2 separate regions of the Homo sapiens genome follow, and region 1 is linked to region 2. The links come from fine-mapping of genetic effects on gene expression. A gene starts in region 2. The other region holds a variant in brackets. All regions are shown on one strand. Distances are from middle to middle.

Region 1 (8,335 bases), 50 kb before region 2:
CCAGTGCCTTGATCCTGGACTTCTCGGCCTCCAGATCTGTGAGAAATAAATTTCTGTTGTTTTTAAACCACTCAATCTATAGTATTCTTTTTTTTTTTTTTTTTTTGAGATGGGGTCTCACTGTGTTGCCCAGGCTAGCCTCAAACTCCTGGGCTTAAGAGATCCTCCCATCTCAGCCTTTCAAAGTGCTCAGGTTATAGGAATGAACCACTTTGCCCAGTCCCTGAGCCACCACACCTGGCCCCAGGTATCTTTGATGTTACCATTGTTAATGTTTAGGGCACCATAAACTGTGCCCATACAGAATAGCAAGCTTAATTAATAAATGTTATATACTGACTGCTCCACTGCTCAGACACAACAATATTGACATTAGGCCAATTAACAACCCTACGATGGCCTCTCAGTGTTCAAGTGAAAGGAAGAATCATGTGCATCTCTCATTTTTGAATCCGAAGCTAGAAATGATTAAGCTTAGTAAGCAAGGTGTGTCAAAAGCTGAGACAGGCCAAAAGCTAGGCTTCTTGTGCCAAACAGATAGCCAAGTTGTGAATGCAAAGGAAAAATTCTTGAAGGAAATTAAAAGTGCTACTCCAGTGAACACAAGTATGATAAGAAAGCGAAACAGCATTGATACGGAGAAAGTTTCAGTGAGCTGGATAGAAGATCAAACCAGCAACAACATTCCCTTCATCCAAAGCCTAGCCTAGAACAAGGCACTAAACTCTTTTCAATCCTGCGAAGGCTGGGAGACGTAAGGAAGCTGCAGAACAAAAGTCTGAGGCTAGCAGAGGTTGCTTCATGAGATTTAAGGCAAGAAGCCATCTCTATAACATAAAAGTGCAAGGTGAAGAGGCAAGTGCTGATGGAGAAGCTGCAGCAAGTTATCCAGAAGATCTAGCTAAGATCATAGATGAAGGTGGCTACACTGAACAATAGATTTTCGATGGAGATGAAACAGCCTTCTACTAGAAGAAGATGCCATCTAGGACTTTCGTAGCTAGAGAGAAGTCAATGCCTAGCTTCAAAGGACAGGCGACTCTCTTGTTAGGGACTAATGCAGCTGGTGACTTTAAGTTGAACATGGTGCTCATTTACCATTCTGGAAATCCTAGGACCCTTAAGTATTATGCTAAATCTACTCTGCCAGTGCTGTATAAATGGAGCAACAAAGCCTGGATGACAGCACATCTGTTTATAGCATGGTTTACTGAATAATTTAAGCCTGCTGTTGAGACTTACTACTCAAAAAATAAAAAAGATTCCTTTTTAATATATTACTGCTTCTTGACAATGCACCTAGTCACCCAAGAACTCTGATGGAGATGTACAAGGAGCTGAATGTTGTTTTCATGCCTGCTAACACAACATCCATTCTGTAGCCCATGGATCAAGGAGTGATTTTTGACTTTCAAGTCTTGTTATTTAAGAAATACATTTGTAAGGCTGTAGCTGCCATAGATAGTGATTCCTCTGATGGATCTGGGCAAAGTAAATTGAAAACCTTCTGGAAAGGATTCACCATTTTAGATGTTATTATAAATACTCATGATTCATGAGAGAAGGGCAAACTATCAACATCAACAGAGTTTGGAGGAAGCTGATTTTAACTCTCGTGGATGACTGTGGGGTCTGAGACTTCAATGGAGCAAGTCACTGCAGATGTGGTGAAAATAGCAAGAGAACTGGAATTAGAAGTGGTACCTGGAGATGTGACTGAATTGCTGCAATCTCATGATTAAACTTGAACAGATGAGAAATTGCTTTCTGTGGATGAGCAAAGAAAGTGATTTCTTGAGATGGAAGCTGCTTCTGGTGAAGGTGCTGTGAGCAGTGTTGAAATGACAAGAAACGATTGAGAATGTTCCATAAACTTAGTTGATAAAGCATCAACTAAGGGTTTGAGAGGATGGAATCCAATTTTGAAAGGAGTTCTCCTGTGGGCAAAATGCTATCAAACAGCATCTCACAATACAGAGAAATCTTTTGTGAGAGGAAGAGTCAATAAATGCGGCAAATTTCATTGTATTATTTTAAGAAATTGCCACAGCCACCCAACCTTCAGCAACCACCACCCTGATCAGTCAGCAGTCACCAGTGTTGAGATGAGATCCTCCACTAGCAAAAAGATTTCAACTCACTAAAGGCTCAGATGACTGTTAACATTTTTTTTTAGCAAAAAAGTATTTTTAAATTAAGGTATATACTTTTTTAAGACGTAATGCTATTGCACACTTCATAGACTGCAGTATAGTATAAACATAACCTTTCTATGCACTGGGAACCAAAAAATCTGTGTGACTCACTTATTCCAAATATTTGCTTTATTGCAGTGGTTGGGATTGAAACCCACATAAACTCTGAGGTATGCCTGTATCTCAGAGGTAAGATTGCTGTTTGGTTGGAGATTAATCTTACAGGGTAAGGTAACTCATGCTTTCAGTCCACTGTTGGAAAGGCTTCTCCCAAGGGGATGCCAGCTCTCCCCAGCGTGGTTTCTCCTCCACTTCGTTGCTTCCATTCAATCACTGTCAAGAAGAGCATGCGGGTGTTGTTTTATTTCACACTCATGGGCTGCTGTTCTATGCTGCTTATTACAACACTTTCCACAACTTCTTTTTTCTCCCTCATCTCCAAAAATAGCAAATGACATTGCATGCCCAGATTTTCCACCTGAGTTTGTTTTTCATTTTTGAGGGAAATCAGCACGGGTGCTGAGTGCTGCCTCAGCACCAAATGAATACTGGTATGAACCCCAGGACAAAGTCAAAGGTTATACTCGTCTGCAATGCAGCTGCAAATCTGCCTTGATTCTCAGCGTGAGGAGAATGGATGCTGTTTATGGTGTGAGTACTATATATGGAAATAGCTTGAATGTGCCTGGATTTCTGCATTAAATATGTTCCTGGAATTTAATGTGTACTTTTTTTTTTTCTTTTTTGAGACAGAGTCTTGCTCTGTCACCCAAGCTGGAGTGCAGTGGCGCAATCATGGCTTTCTGCAACCTCGACCTCCTGGGCTCAAGTGATACTCCCACCTCTCAGCCTCCTGAGTAGCTGGGGCTGCAGGCATGCACCACCATGCCGGCTAATTTTTGTACTTTTTGTAGAGACGAGGTTTCGCCATGTTGCCTAGGCTGGTTAAATTTATCTTATAACAGCCTGGGCATGGTGGCTTACGCCTGTAATCCCAGCACTTTGGGAGGCCAAGGCAGGTGGATCACTTGAACCCAGCAGTTTGAGACCAGCCTGGGCAACATAGCAAGACCCCCTCTCTGAAAATATTTAAAATTTAACAATAAATAAATAAATTTATCTTACAACAAAGTTTACCCAGAATGACTGGTGTCTTAGTCCATCTGAGCTGCCATAGACTGGGTATTTTATAAACCATAGAAATGTATTGTTATGATGCTGGAAACCATCATTCTCAGCAAACTATCGCAAGGACAAAAAACCAAACACCACATGTTCTCACTCATAGGTGGGAATTGAACAATGAGAACACATGGACACAGGAAGGGGAACATCACACACCGGGGACTGTTGTGGGGTGGGGGGAGGGGGGAGGGGGGAGGGATAGCATTAGGAGATATACCTAATGCTAAATGACGAGTTAATGGGTTCAGCACACCAACATGGCACAGGTATACATATGTAACAAACCTGCACGATGTGCACATGTACCCTAAAACTTAAAGTATAATTAAAAAAAAAAAAGAAATGTATTGTTTACTGTTCTGGATCAAAGTCAAGGCACCAACGGATG[TG/G]GTATCTGGTGAGGGCTTACTTTCTGCTTCACAGGATATCTTCCTGCTGCGTTCTCACATTGTGGAAGGGGCAAACAAGCGCCCTTGGTTCTCTCTCACAGGGCAGTAATCCCATTCACCCCATTCACTTTAGGACCTCATCACTTCCTAAGGCACCACTTCTTAATACTACTGCATTGGGGATTAAATATGAATGTTGCAGGGGTTGAGGGGAGACACAAACATTCAGACCATAGCAACTGGTAAACAGTGTTTCCATGATAATCAGATACGTTGGAATAGGGAGACCAACTTTTTATATAAACCATGCGTAACCTGGTTTCTCCAGGCCACAGTAGCCAGGAGATTCAAGTGGGCTTTAGGACCACTGAGAACTCTCTGGCAGCTTCATGGGTGTGCAACCTGTACAGTTGTCCAGAGGTCTGCATTCAGAAGGGCCTGGTGCTTGGTTTAATGCTCAGCTGTCACAATCATGAAATTCTTAACTCTAAACAAGGGGCCTGTGTTGTCATTTTGCATTGGGCCCTGCAAATATTGTTCCCCATAGCTACTGCCCCTTGTTAAACCTAACCCCAAATATGTCCAGGAACCCCCTGGGAGTGGGTGTCACAGATGTTGATGAAACCACTCAGTAACCTACTTTGTGCCTGCTTCATTTCCTTCCTCTCCTGTCCCCACAGACACTGTGGCCCTGACATGTGGCAGTCCTTGGGGACCTGCAGGCAGGGTGCCATGTCCTCTGGAATCCCCAGAGGCCTGAAGACATGCTGCATGTTCCTGCAGAAGTGCTCCTGGCTCTCCTTGTGAAACACCTTATCTCTTGACCCCAAAGCCCATCTGCTTGAGCCCCAAATGTCTCACTGAGCTTAGCATGGAAACATGCTCCTCAGTTGTCTGCTTATGGCCCCTGTCCCTCTCTTAGACCCTAGACAGTGACCTGCTACCTCCCGTGTCTTCCTGGTTAGCTGCTCCTTCTCCGGCCTTCCCTTCTCCCCTTCCATCCACTTTCCTCCCCAGGGAGCTTACAGTTTCCCTTTGAAGTCCTCACTAAACACAGATGAGGACTCTTCAAAGAACTGCACCGACCAACTCTATGTTCTTCCGAACTGCATTGCAGGCAGCTATTAATAGGAGCAACAAAAAAGGGGAGGTTCACTAGGCAAATAAATTTGGGAAACAGTGCATATTAGATGCTCTTCTTGGAGATTTAACTAGTCACTATCAAGCATGTTGAAAGTTCAGGGAAGAATCTATTTAACCTAATATAACCCAGTGTTTCCTAAATTGGGCATTATATTGGGCATTGAACACTCTGACCATCCCTCCCCCACCTCACACACACACATTAGCAGTATGCAGATTGCATTCTTGGGTGATACACACTTAGAGTACAATAAAATAAATTGATATAAACCAATTCTGAACATAATTCAATATTGCTTTGAGGATTCATGAGATGCTGGCATTTATCTTTTGATCTCTGGACAAATGGAAATTAAGCATACTCCAAATGATATTTAAAATACACTAAAGACATTTAGCCTTACCTAGCGCTAGGCACATTGTAAATACTCAGTATATACTTGTGGAATTACTGAATTTATGGAAATCCTTTGGGCCTCAGTTTCATCTACTTAGAGGAACTGGATTAGTTGGTCTCTGACATCACTTAATAAACATCAAGTGTCTTTTAAGTTAGTCACTGAGGTATGAAGACTGGGCTCCTCTCCCAAAAGAACTGACAGCCTAGTAGAAAACAGGCAATATGCAAACAATTATAATACAACATAATATTGTTACAGGAAATATATATACTGTTATGGAACTATAGAGGAGGTAATAGCATTGAGTCTTAAAAAATAAGTAGGCGTTCATTAGGATGAAATGATACAGGGAAAGGGAATTCCAAACCAAGTGCACAGCACAAACAAATAAATGAAGACCTAAAGCATTGAATCTTTCATGGACACTTCTAGGCCTAAATCCCTTGACTTTATAAATGTCATGGTAAATTGCATAATGCATATCATCATGCCCAAATTCATATTTTATAATGCCATATGTTAGATCTCCTTACTGTGGTTTCACCTGAGGCAATCTTCTGAAATTTTCTTTAAAAAAATGAAGAGTTGTCTGGGCGCGGTGGCTCACGCCTGTAATCCCAGCACTTTGGGAGGCCGAGGTGGGTGGATCACCTGAGGTCAGGAGTTCAAGACCAGCCTGGACAACATGGTGAAACCCTGTCTCTACAAAAATACAAAAATTAGCCAGGTATGATGGCAAGTGCCTGTAATCCCAGCTACTTGGGAGGCTGAGGCGGGAGAATCGTTTGAACCCGGGAGGCGGAGGTTGTAGTGAGCCAAGATCACGCCACTGCACTCCAGCCTGGGTGACAGAGTGAGACTCAGTCTCAAAACAAACAAACACACAAAAAACAAAAAACCTGAAGTTACTGAATAGTAACCAATCCCCCTTCCCTTCAAGACAGATGCCAGGAAACCCAGCTATAATGGCTAGGCAGCTCTAGTCCTGCCAGCTGCTTCTACGCTGCTAACTTCTGTCCTGCTAATGTGAGGTCTGGGCTGCTCAGAAGGCTCACTCCAGCCCTCCTGTCCCAGGCCTTTTCTAATTGTGTTCCACAGCTCTCTGGGTTTCAATGGGTTCTGTGGCTAGTTTCTAAAGAAATAAGCTATAGGCATGCATATGTGCATGCGTCTGTGTGTGTGTGTGTGTGTGTGTGTGCATGTGTGTGTGTGTGTGAAATCACTGACGGTTCTCATATTTTTAACTCTGAGCCTATCATTTTGATGCAGTTCATTCCTGTCTTCTGTCTCCAAAGTAAACTCCCATCTTTATACTGTGGTAGGTGCATCCGTTTTTCAGTGTAAAGACTGTACCAGGGGCTAGGAGCAGTGGCTCATCCCTGTAATCCCAGCACTTTGGGAGGTCAAGGCGGGTGGATTACTTGAGGTCAGGAGTTCGAGGCCAACATGGTGAAACCCCGTCTCTACTAAAAATACAAAAATTAGCTGGGCATGGAAGTGGGCGCCTGTAATCTCAGTTACTTGAGAGGCTGAGGCAGGAGAATCACTTGAACCTGGGAGGCAGAGGTTGCAGTGAGCCGAGATAGCACCACTGCACTCCAGCCTGGATGACAAAGAGAGGCTCCGTTTAAAAAAAGAAAAAAAAAAAAAGACTGTACCAGAAAGAGAAAGGTACAAGTGGCGGTTCTCCCAGGCAGAGTATTTGCAAACTTGATATTTCTGCTACCCACATAAGGAATATTAAAAGGAAAGAAAGACTGTTGCCACAGCCTTCATCTCTAGAATTCATTTATACATATGATTTACCATTATTGTTATTTCTTGGTTATTTCAGGATGTTTCTTCCCAATAAGATCCCAGGATAAATTCTGATTATTAGTTGCTTTGTTTTACAAACAGTACTAAGGCACTGAAACATGGTGCTTAATAGAGCAACCGGTGATGCCCTGGCATATGTGGAGTTTGAGATCAAGGCCTCTTGTTACTCAGGAGAGATGGCATGTGATGGGTAAAGGTTTTGCAGAAATTACCTTTAAATGAACTCCTCAGCATGCATTGTCACCTAAAAAGGAATAAGGTTTCAAGGGGTTGGACCAATAAAGGGCTAATCTTAGATGTCTGAAAATCATTTGAAAAATGTAGAACCTTTGCTCAGGCTGGAGAGGGTATCCCAGGGGTAAGTGTGTAGGAACTGCAAAAACAGGGTGGAGCCACTAAGTAGATGAAAAGACTGGGCCGGGCGCAGTGGCTCATGCCTGTAATCCCAGCACTTTGGGAGGCTGAGGTGGGTGGATCACTTGAGGTCAGGAGTTCAAGACCAGTCTGGTCAACATGGTGAAACACCGTCTCTACTAAAAATACAAAAATTAGCCAGGGATGGTGGTGCGTGCCTGTAATCCCAGCTACTTGGGAGGCTGAGGCAGGAGAATCACTTGATCCCAGGAGGTGGAGGCTGCAGTGAGTCGAGATAGCACAACTGCACTCCAGCCTGGGCAACAGAGTGAGACTCTGTCTCAAATAAATAAATAAATAAACAAAAATAAAACAAATAAATAGGTGGGAGGACAAATTTTGAGAGACACCTGAATTCTATTTCAGCTGACCATGCTAAAATTTCCTTAAATTTTAATTTTGATTAAATGTGTTTAACATCCAAATAATACTATGCACAGTTCACATGGCAGAGTACTACACAGCTGTAAAAAAGAACGAGGAATATATGGAGTGATCCTTAGACTTTATGGCTAGTGAAAACAAAACAAGGTAGAAAAAATTGTCTATAGTATGCTACTGTTTATCTAAAAAGAGAGAATTTGATATATGAAAATGTTTCCTTATTTTTTTAATGAGAGAATATGCCATAAAACTTTATTTCTTAAAAAAGACTTTGTTGGGAAGTAGATAGGGTAGAGGGACTGGGATAGAAGTCACACTCCTCTGAATATGCCTGCTGTTGTAGATTTGACTTTAGAAATTTGTAATCATTTTACATAATTATAAAATATTTTTAATTGAAAAGCAA
Region 2 (8,335 bases):
ATTGTGAGGGTTAAATGGTATGATTAAATACCCAACATAGTGCTTGACTCAGTTAAGGATTTTAATTAATGGTGGTCCCCTTTCCTTTGATTTCCTCAAAGATACAGCACACTGGGTTTATGGTAACATGATTTAGGTGTACCACAGGTCAAATCATTTCCTTCAAACTTAACAAACCATACATGTTCATCTGCTACTAACAAAATCTTCATTGTTCATCTATAAAATTGGGAATAATAGTGTAACAGTATTTTCTTTGATAAAATAGATAATACTGTCTACTTTGTAGGCAACCATGAAGATTAAATAAAATAATATCAGTCAGGCACGGTGGCTCACATCTGTAATCTCAGCACTTTGGGAGGCTGAGGTGGGAGGATCACCTGAGTCCAGGAGTTTGAGGTCAGCCTGGGCAACAAAGCAAGACCCCATCTCTATTTTTTATATAATTATTTTTTTTAAAAAGTGGCTGGGCGTGGTGGCTCATGCCTGTAATCCCAGCATTTTGGGAGGCCAAGGTGGGTGGATGGCCTGAGCTCAGGAGTTCAAGACCACCCTGGGCAACATGGTGAAACCCTGTCTCTACTAAAATACAAAAAATTAGCCAGGCATGGTGGCACACACCTGTAGTCCCCGCTACTCGGGAGGCTGAGGCACAAGAATCGCTGGAGCCTGGGAGGCAGAGGTTGCAGTGAGACGAGATCACGCCACTGCACTACAACTTGAGCTACAGAGTGAGACTCTGTCTCAAAAAATAAATAAATAAATAAATAAATAAATAAATAAAATAAAAATAAAACAATAAAACAATATATATATATTTTTTAAATTCCATAACTGGCATATGGAAGATACATAGTGTTAACTGAAGAATCCCAAGGTTTATAAATTTGGAGAGGGGAGCTTTACTTTTTATAAAGGGTTGCAGCCTGCAGGCTGGTGATCCTGACAGGCTGGGAAGTGTAGACTCTGGCAGAGACTGAAAGCAGGTATTTAGAGGGAGGAAAAAGTGGAACACAAATTTATGCCAAATGAGTTGGCTAAGAATACACACTTAAGTTACAGGAGCTTTGATTATTCACAAAGCGGGGGGCAGCACATGCATGCATAGTGAGCAAACATGCATGTTACATATGTCCTATGTTCTCTTTGGGGTGGAGATTTAACATTTAAATGCATTACAATTAGGTGAAGCAAAGGACATGAAGACACTCAGTGCACAGCCTCTGAAAACCAGCCAGAACCAGTCTGTGGTTGGTAGTCTCTTACTAGGATGTTACTGAAATCAGTCTCTTGTCCAATCAAAGAAATAGTTATGGTTTGTGGAACAGGGGTTGGGGGGATACAGTTAGTCAGCATCTAGTGGTCAGTGAGCTACAATTGATTCAATATTGCTTATCTCCAGGCCAGTGTCTATTTAGCTACCAGAGAAAAAGAAAAACCTTGTGGCAGTTAGAAGATGGTTTACTCTTCAAGTGTAGGGATGTGTGACTTAACCCTTGCCTGACACAGCCTTAGGTCTTGTTTATAATTTGGCATCTTATTGCCTCAAAGAGTCTGTTCCATCGGTCATATGATCACTATTGTAACAATAGTAAATGGCACTTTCTTTTCCCACTCCCTTTGACTATTTACCCATAGCATCTTCCACACCTAGTTCAAAATTCATCTAGGATACTTCAAATCAATCTTTCCACCTTAATCAGATAGCTCTGTTTTGTGTCACATTTAAAGTAAATTATTTACTTTAAGTACTGCTAAGAACACACTCTATGTAAACTATTATACTGGATGCCCAAGGAGATAAGTAGAAGATGGTTCTCTGGCTTTGAGGTGTTTGGTTGAGACAGCAATATACATTAAAAGTTGAACAGGAATGCAAAGCAGCATGGGACAAATTATACAGAAAGTGTGATAGTTTTGAGATTATAGTGGCTGATCTGTTCATTATTTTGTACTCAGGAACTAAAAAATTACTAAGAGTTGTAAGAGCTCTGGTTTTATAGCTGAGATAATAAGCCCAGTGACACAAGTGGTCTAGGATCCCAGCTATGAAGTGGCAAGAGGTTTCCTGTCTCCTGGTCCTATGCTGCTTGTGCGTGGGTTTCTAACTATTCACGAGTCTTTTAATCAGTTAATGTTTGCTCTCTCTAAGTAGACAGTTTAGTATAGCCAGGTAAGAACTGGGCTTTGAAACTAAAATGTTTGGGTTTGAATCCTGGCTTTGCTATTTACTGTGTGACTTTGGGCAAGTCACTAATCTCTTTGCTTTACTTACCCACCTATAAAATGAGTATAATAATGGTACTTTACTTCATAGGGTGGTTGTGAGCATTATATACTTAATATATGTAAAGCATGAAAAACTGTGGATTTGTCATTATAATTGCTATTAGTCTGTGAGGGAATGGAGGGCAAGGAATCTAGTCATGTTTTTTGTTTTTTAAACCTCTTCCCTCAGCTTCTGATCAGAGCATTCACGTGGGTGTTAAATAAATGCATGTTAGCTACCTTAAGCATATTGGGAGTTTTTGTATCACTGAAGTAAGACTTGAGATTTGTGTAAGCCTGGACTAGTCTGGTACCAGAGAAGTCTAGAAAGGTAAAAACTGAGATAGCATCAGATTGATTTTAGGACCTAGCACAGCTTGTTTAAAAAAGTCAGTCAAGACAAATAAGTGCTGAGAGAAATGGGGGTCAATGAGTCTAATTCCAAATGAGCTTTCTCATCTATTTTAAGATCTGCTTCAAACTTCCTCAGACAAAAATCTGGCCTTTTAAGGAAAGTGCAGAGAACATGCCTTCGTGGGCTTAGTTTGAGGGAATAGGGGCTGCATTTCACCCTGGAGGTGGCTACATGAATTCGTGAACTGAGGTGACAACACTGACTCTCTCCGGAAGAAAAGATGCTATCTCTTCACGGAGTTTAATTACAATGGCACTACTTGAAACAAGCTGCAGCAGCAGCAACAACAAACGCTACTGTTAACCCAGTCACAGCTCAGCTCAATATTCAGATTAGAGAAAGCAAGAACCATTTTTTTCCCTGGGACACCCTTCTCTACTCAAATACCCGCTGAAAAAAAAATTCTGAGACAAGCACTAGGGAGTGGGGAAAGCGGGCAGAGATGAACAATAACCCATATTCAGGGGTTAGAAAAATAATATTAATAAATCATGGTAGGTTTTTTTGTTTGTTTTTGGCAGCAACTTGCCACTCTTCAGCATCATCCATCAGGAAATCTAGGTCGGAAAAGTGTACCAACTGACCTTCCAAATTTTCTGCATTTGGCAGATGCAAATCACACAGTCCATCCCCGCCCTCAGCACTTGGACGGTATCAGGGAAACGTAAGTATCAATGGAAGAATCTTGAAGTGAAAAATAAATAACTGGTCAGGTTAGGGTTAGTGTTCTTGTGTGCAAGGGAGCTAGTGAAGTTTAGGCTTTGATGCGCACCCACAGCGTCAGCAAAGGAGGAGGAATTAAGGGACAGCATGGGCCGAAAAGCCCCCGAGTTTTGAGGTCAAGCCAACGGGCTGGGTCTCCGGTATCCTAGGATCTGCCCTGCACACAACCTTTGGCAGTTTCTCGGTTTGAATCTCGCCTGTACATTTCCAGACGAGACACTGTCTTACTGAGCGTTCTCACAGCGCCTAGCTCAGAGCTGACCGCAGAGCCGGCTCTCAATAACATCGAGACGCAAAAGCAGCTTTTGAGGTTAGGGGCGGAAGGGCATCGGTTTTACTTATTTCAAGGCTGGCGCTCGGTGCAGCCGGATCCAACTGCCAGCACAATGTTCCCGATCACTTCTCGCTTCCATTTCAGCCCAGGAGACGTCGGGAAACCCACAGGACCCGCTAGGGGCTAAGCGGTTAAGCCGCGTCCTTCAGGTGTCAGTCTCGATCCGTTCGGAAACCACAACCTCCAGAATCCCTTGTGCCAGGAGGCCAGGCCGCAAATAAGATGGCTCCAGAAGGGTGGAACATACAGCGGGGGGGGGGGGGGGGGAACTTAGTTGTTGGCAGTTTCTTCACGGGATGTGTTTAAATTGCCGAGTCCCCACATACGCGCCACCCCACAAATCTCCTTCGAGGCCGTGGAGGCCACACGGCTGCCGCCTCGCCCTCTCCTCCAGGAGTATGCTGGGATTTGTAGTCCAGCAGCCGGACTGTGCCGAGCTACCTTTCCCAGCTTGCCCTGCGGCTCGGGTGATATCAACAGTCTTTTCCAGAACTCTGTCTGCACTGAGACCCTCTTCCCCCAGTCCTCTTCTCGCGGTCGACTCCTTCCCATCCGTGGCGACAGAACGGCGGTTGCAGGAGAGGCCCCGGTCCCTCGCCGCGCCGCCCCGAGGGGCACTTCCGGCGGCGGTTCACTTCCTGGTTGGGTGGATGGAGCCGGGCGGGAGCGCGCGCGGGGGAGGGGCGGCGGGTCAGTCTCCGCCCGGCGCTCCCGGGATCAGCTGGCGGGCGGGCGGGAGCCGAGCGCGGCCCCGGCTCTCGCTGCAGCGCCGCCTCTTCTCTGCGTCGCAGGCCGGCCCGGCGGCCGTGACAATGTCGCGGGGCTGGTAGCAGGGCGCCGGCCGCCGAGCCGTCTCAAGTGGGTGCTGCCAGGATGCCGCCTCGAGGGGCGGCGGGGAGACCCGGGAGGAGCGGGAGGCAGTGCCCGGGAGGGTCGGCGCTGCCGGAGCAGCTCGGATCCCTCCTTTCTCCGAGCTCCCGGCTCGGGGGTCCCGGGTTCTGGGGCCGGGGTCGCGTTTTCAGCCCCACGGTTTTTCTCGCCGGGAAAATACATGAAGCGTTTCCCCAGGATGATGGCTTTTGCTCCCCCTAGGACTCAGCGGTTGAATTTTTAAGCGTGTTACTGATTCATCCTCTCTTTCTTCCTCTGTCATCACAGGTTTAAACTTACACGAATCGCTTTCTGGAGGAGGAGGGGACCCGCTGCGCGATTGACACGCATATTCCTATAGGCATCCTCCCTCAGCCCCCACCCCCACGGCCGGATTCGGGTGGCTCCTCTCCGAGGTGAAATCTGAGAAGAAATCCTTGGATCTCTTTTCTTAAAAAAAAAAAAAAAAAAAAAAAATCTAGAAACCATCGGTATTTTGCTTTGCTGCTCCCTATTCGCAAGATGAAGAAGTTTTTCGACTCCCGGCGAGAGCAGGGCGGCTCTGGCCTGGGCTCCGGCTCCAGCGGAGGAGGGGGCAGCACCTCGGGCCTGGGCAGTGGCTACATCGGAAGAGTCTTCGGCATCGGGCGACAGCAGGTCACAGTGGACGAGGTGTTGGCGGAAGGTACGGTGGGGCTCAATGCGCCGTAAATTAAAATCTTGTGCTGATGCGGCAATACTGTGGTTTCTAGTTGTTGCATGTATGAATGGGCTTTGACCAGTTGACCCTCCCTTCCCCCTTCACTTGCCCTGTGAGTCATTGTCCTTGAGAGATTTAAAATTGAGATTTGAAAGTGACTGGGCTTATGGGGGTGTGGGGAGGTTGCCGAAATTGTTTACGTTAGTGGCCTTTTATTTTTATTTTTTTAATATTGAGAAGCCAAATTTTGAGGATCACACAAGAAAACGTATGTGTGAAAGTGTAAAGCTTTATGCCAAAGGCAGGGTGATGGGCTTGTCATCCTCCTAAAACTTAAAATCTTGATGTGAAGGCTGAAGGGTGGGGGGACTTTTAAGAAGAGAGGGGTTTCTCCTTCTCCTACCCAACTTTCCCACTTCCATGAGCAGGCATTGGAAGGAAGAGAGGATTTTCGGAGAACGTGAACGTGTTTTTCCAAGGGCCAAGGCTCTTGGTGGATTTCACTAGTAGATTTGTTTCCTGACCCAACTGTAATCAGGTCCCCAGGTTATAGCAAAGATAACAGAAATTACATAAAACAAATGTGGTTATTTTGAACTCAGTCTAGTAGGCCCCTCTTCCTTCTCGCTTTAGGTTTTGTTTTTTGTTTTTTTAATCAAAAGAAAAATTACTTGAGAGTGGCTCTGATTTTGTTTTTTCGCTATCAGAGAGGATGTTATTTAGATCTGCTGCATAAATTCCCTCTGTGTTTCATCTGTGTGTCTATACTCACGTAGATATACATCTTGATTCCCCCAGGCTTTCGGGAAATCTTTGCATGTCTCTTTTGGTAACCTTAACCTCGACCTTCATAATTATGCCAGACTCATACTTTTCACAGCCCTTCGCCTGCCTAGTGTGCTTTTATTTTTAATAAAAGCAGCAATTTCCTTGGCATGAAGCAATTCAGACTGATTGGATGGGGCCAACCTGCTGTAGGTTGTGTTATAGACCGAGAGGGGTTGGAAGAAGGGAGAGGTCTCTCTTACTGCAACATGGTGATGGTAGGGAACAGTTTTATTAGCAAGGGAAGAGAGAAAGCTAAGAGGCCTCTTTAAAAAGGGGCCTTTTGCAAGCTAAAGTTGAAGCAAGGGTCCTGACCTGGGCCTGGGAAATGCTTACCATGGTGGATGTTGCGGGCTGGTGGGTGGGTTTGGAAGAGGAAGAAGCTGTGTTTGGCTCTCAGCTTGTGTAAGCACTGGATTCAGCAGGGCCCAGTTTTCTGGGAATAGAGTTGAAGTCTGTACTTTAAAAACATGATTTTTAAAAAAGATCTCTGACAGTTAATGTCCATGTGAAATTATTGCTCTTCCAATCTCAGTACTGTTCTAGCTGCGCTTTATCTGGGGCCAGAGTCACTGTCCCCTTGGATCTTTCCCGTGGACTTTGGTGCAGGCTAGGAGATGCTTCTGTGCCCGCTGCCAGATCCGCACCCTTGAGTCTGATCTGTCTCTTTCATCCCTGTGCCAAAGCCCTTAACTGCAGTGGGGTGGAGAAACAGTGAAAAGGAGAGTGTGTCAGAGAGAAATCAGGAGAAACGAAGGGCCACAGAACACTTTCCTCCCCTCTGAATGGCCTCTGCTGACCTTATAGCCCACGAGCGTTTTGTTCAGCTAGGATGTTGTCTCATCACGGATGATGCTGCCCTAAGCGGTGCATGTTCTCCAAGTGTGAGAGAAGTGATAGGGAAAAGAAAAGGCAAAATTGGTCTTTGTTACCTAGGCTGCCTTCCTCTTCTCTGGGATTCATCTTTGAGAACTGCGCATCACGTATTGTGATATTTTTACACAGAATTTAGGACTTGTAGCTCTGCATTTATTCATTCAACAGTTTATGGAGTTGCCTGTGAAGTGCCAGGTGCTGTGCTAGGCTCTGGGGGTATACTGTTAAACTAGATGCTAGCTTTTACCAACTGCTTTAAGAGATGGAAAATAGCCAGTTATAGTGGATTGGTAAATGCCATCATAGAGATAAACTTAGGGTGCAGTGGCCCCCAGTTTTAGGGAGCCCAGGATTTCTGAAGGAAGTGACTGAAGAGTGAGTAGGAGTTAGTGTGGTGGCACCATGGGCAAAGACAGAGTAGCGAGAGAGAATGTCACGTAAAACTGGGTCTGGCTATGCGCCCTTTTTGTGTTCTTTGGCTTAAGTTGAGTTTGAATTTGTGGCTCTTAGAAGTATGTAGATATGTAGGAGCCAGTATACAAAGTATTTATGTAGCACCTACCAAGTCCAAAGACCCTATGAAGTTCTGAGATGGATGAGGGAGGTCTATAGTGTGATTGACATCTGCCTTTAAGGATCTGCCAATGAATTTGGGAAGATGAGGCATACATTCACACATACAGTAGCATGGTTACCAGCACTGTCTGTAGAGTCAGACAGATCTAGGTTCAAATTCTGGATCTGTTCTTTACTAGCTGTGGAACTGTAGGCAAGACATTCCAAACCACTCTTGAATCTCTGTTTCCCTGTGGCAGTGGTTCTCAAAGTGGGGCATACTTATCACCTGCGAGCTTGTTGGAAATGGAGATTCTCAGGCCTCACTCTGTAGGCTGTGGGTGTGGGGCTTAATAAGTTCCTGGAGAGATTCTGACGCAAGGTCAAGTTTGAGAACCACTGCTTAATGGGCTGGTCATGAAGATTAAATGAGGCAATATATATAATTAACATTTTCAGGTGTTCAATAAATGGTAGCCATTACTTACCAGCAACGTTATACATCATATGTATATATGTGGGGGGGGAGAGAGAGAGAGAGAGAGAGAGAGAGTGTGTGTGTGTGTGTGTGTGTGTGTGTGTGTGTGTGTGTTAAAGGGGAGTGGGAGCAATGTGAAAGCTAGTTGAGCTGCAGCAATCTGAAGCAATTCCTTTCCCCCATTGTTAGGGGACAGAGCCAGATGTTCTTTGCAGAGTCCTCACCAGCTCCTTAAAGGCTTAACAGACGTTTTGGGTAGCCATGCTCCTTCCCTGGACTCTCTTCTCT

The links. PIP is the estimated chance that this variant, and not a neighbour inherited with it, causes the effect.
Region 1: its variant is fine-mapped to the expression of AAK1 in whole blood (TOPMed, PIP above 0.99).

Annotation. Positions count from the first base shown.
Region 1 is chr2:69,689,750-69,698,084 of GRCh38, reverse strand. It overlaps a transcript of ANXA4 not described here. Among named protein-coding and RNA genes, the nearest start is that of ANXA4, 48 kb to the left of the region's middle. The variant TG/G (reference allele first, on the strand shown) is at 3,769.
Region 2 is chr2:69,639,841-69,648,175 of GRCh38, reverse strand. AAK1 (AP2 associated kinase 1) reads left to right here and starts at 4,437. Exons shown (of 22, transcript NM_014911.5): 1 at 4,437-4,601; 2 at 4,902-5,298. The coding sequence starts at 5,136. It also overlaps a transcript of ANXA4 not described here. RefSeq lists enhancers at 2,651-3,253, 4,009-4,278 and a silencer at 4,359-4,688.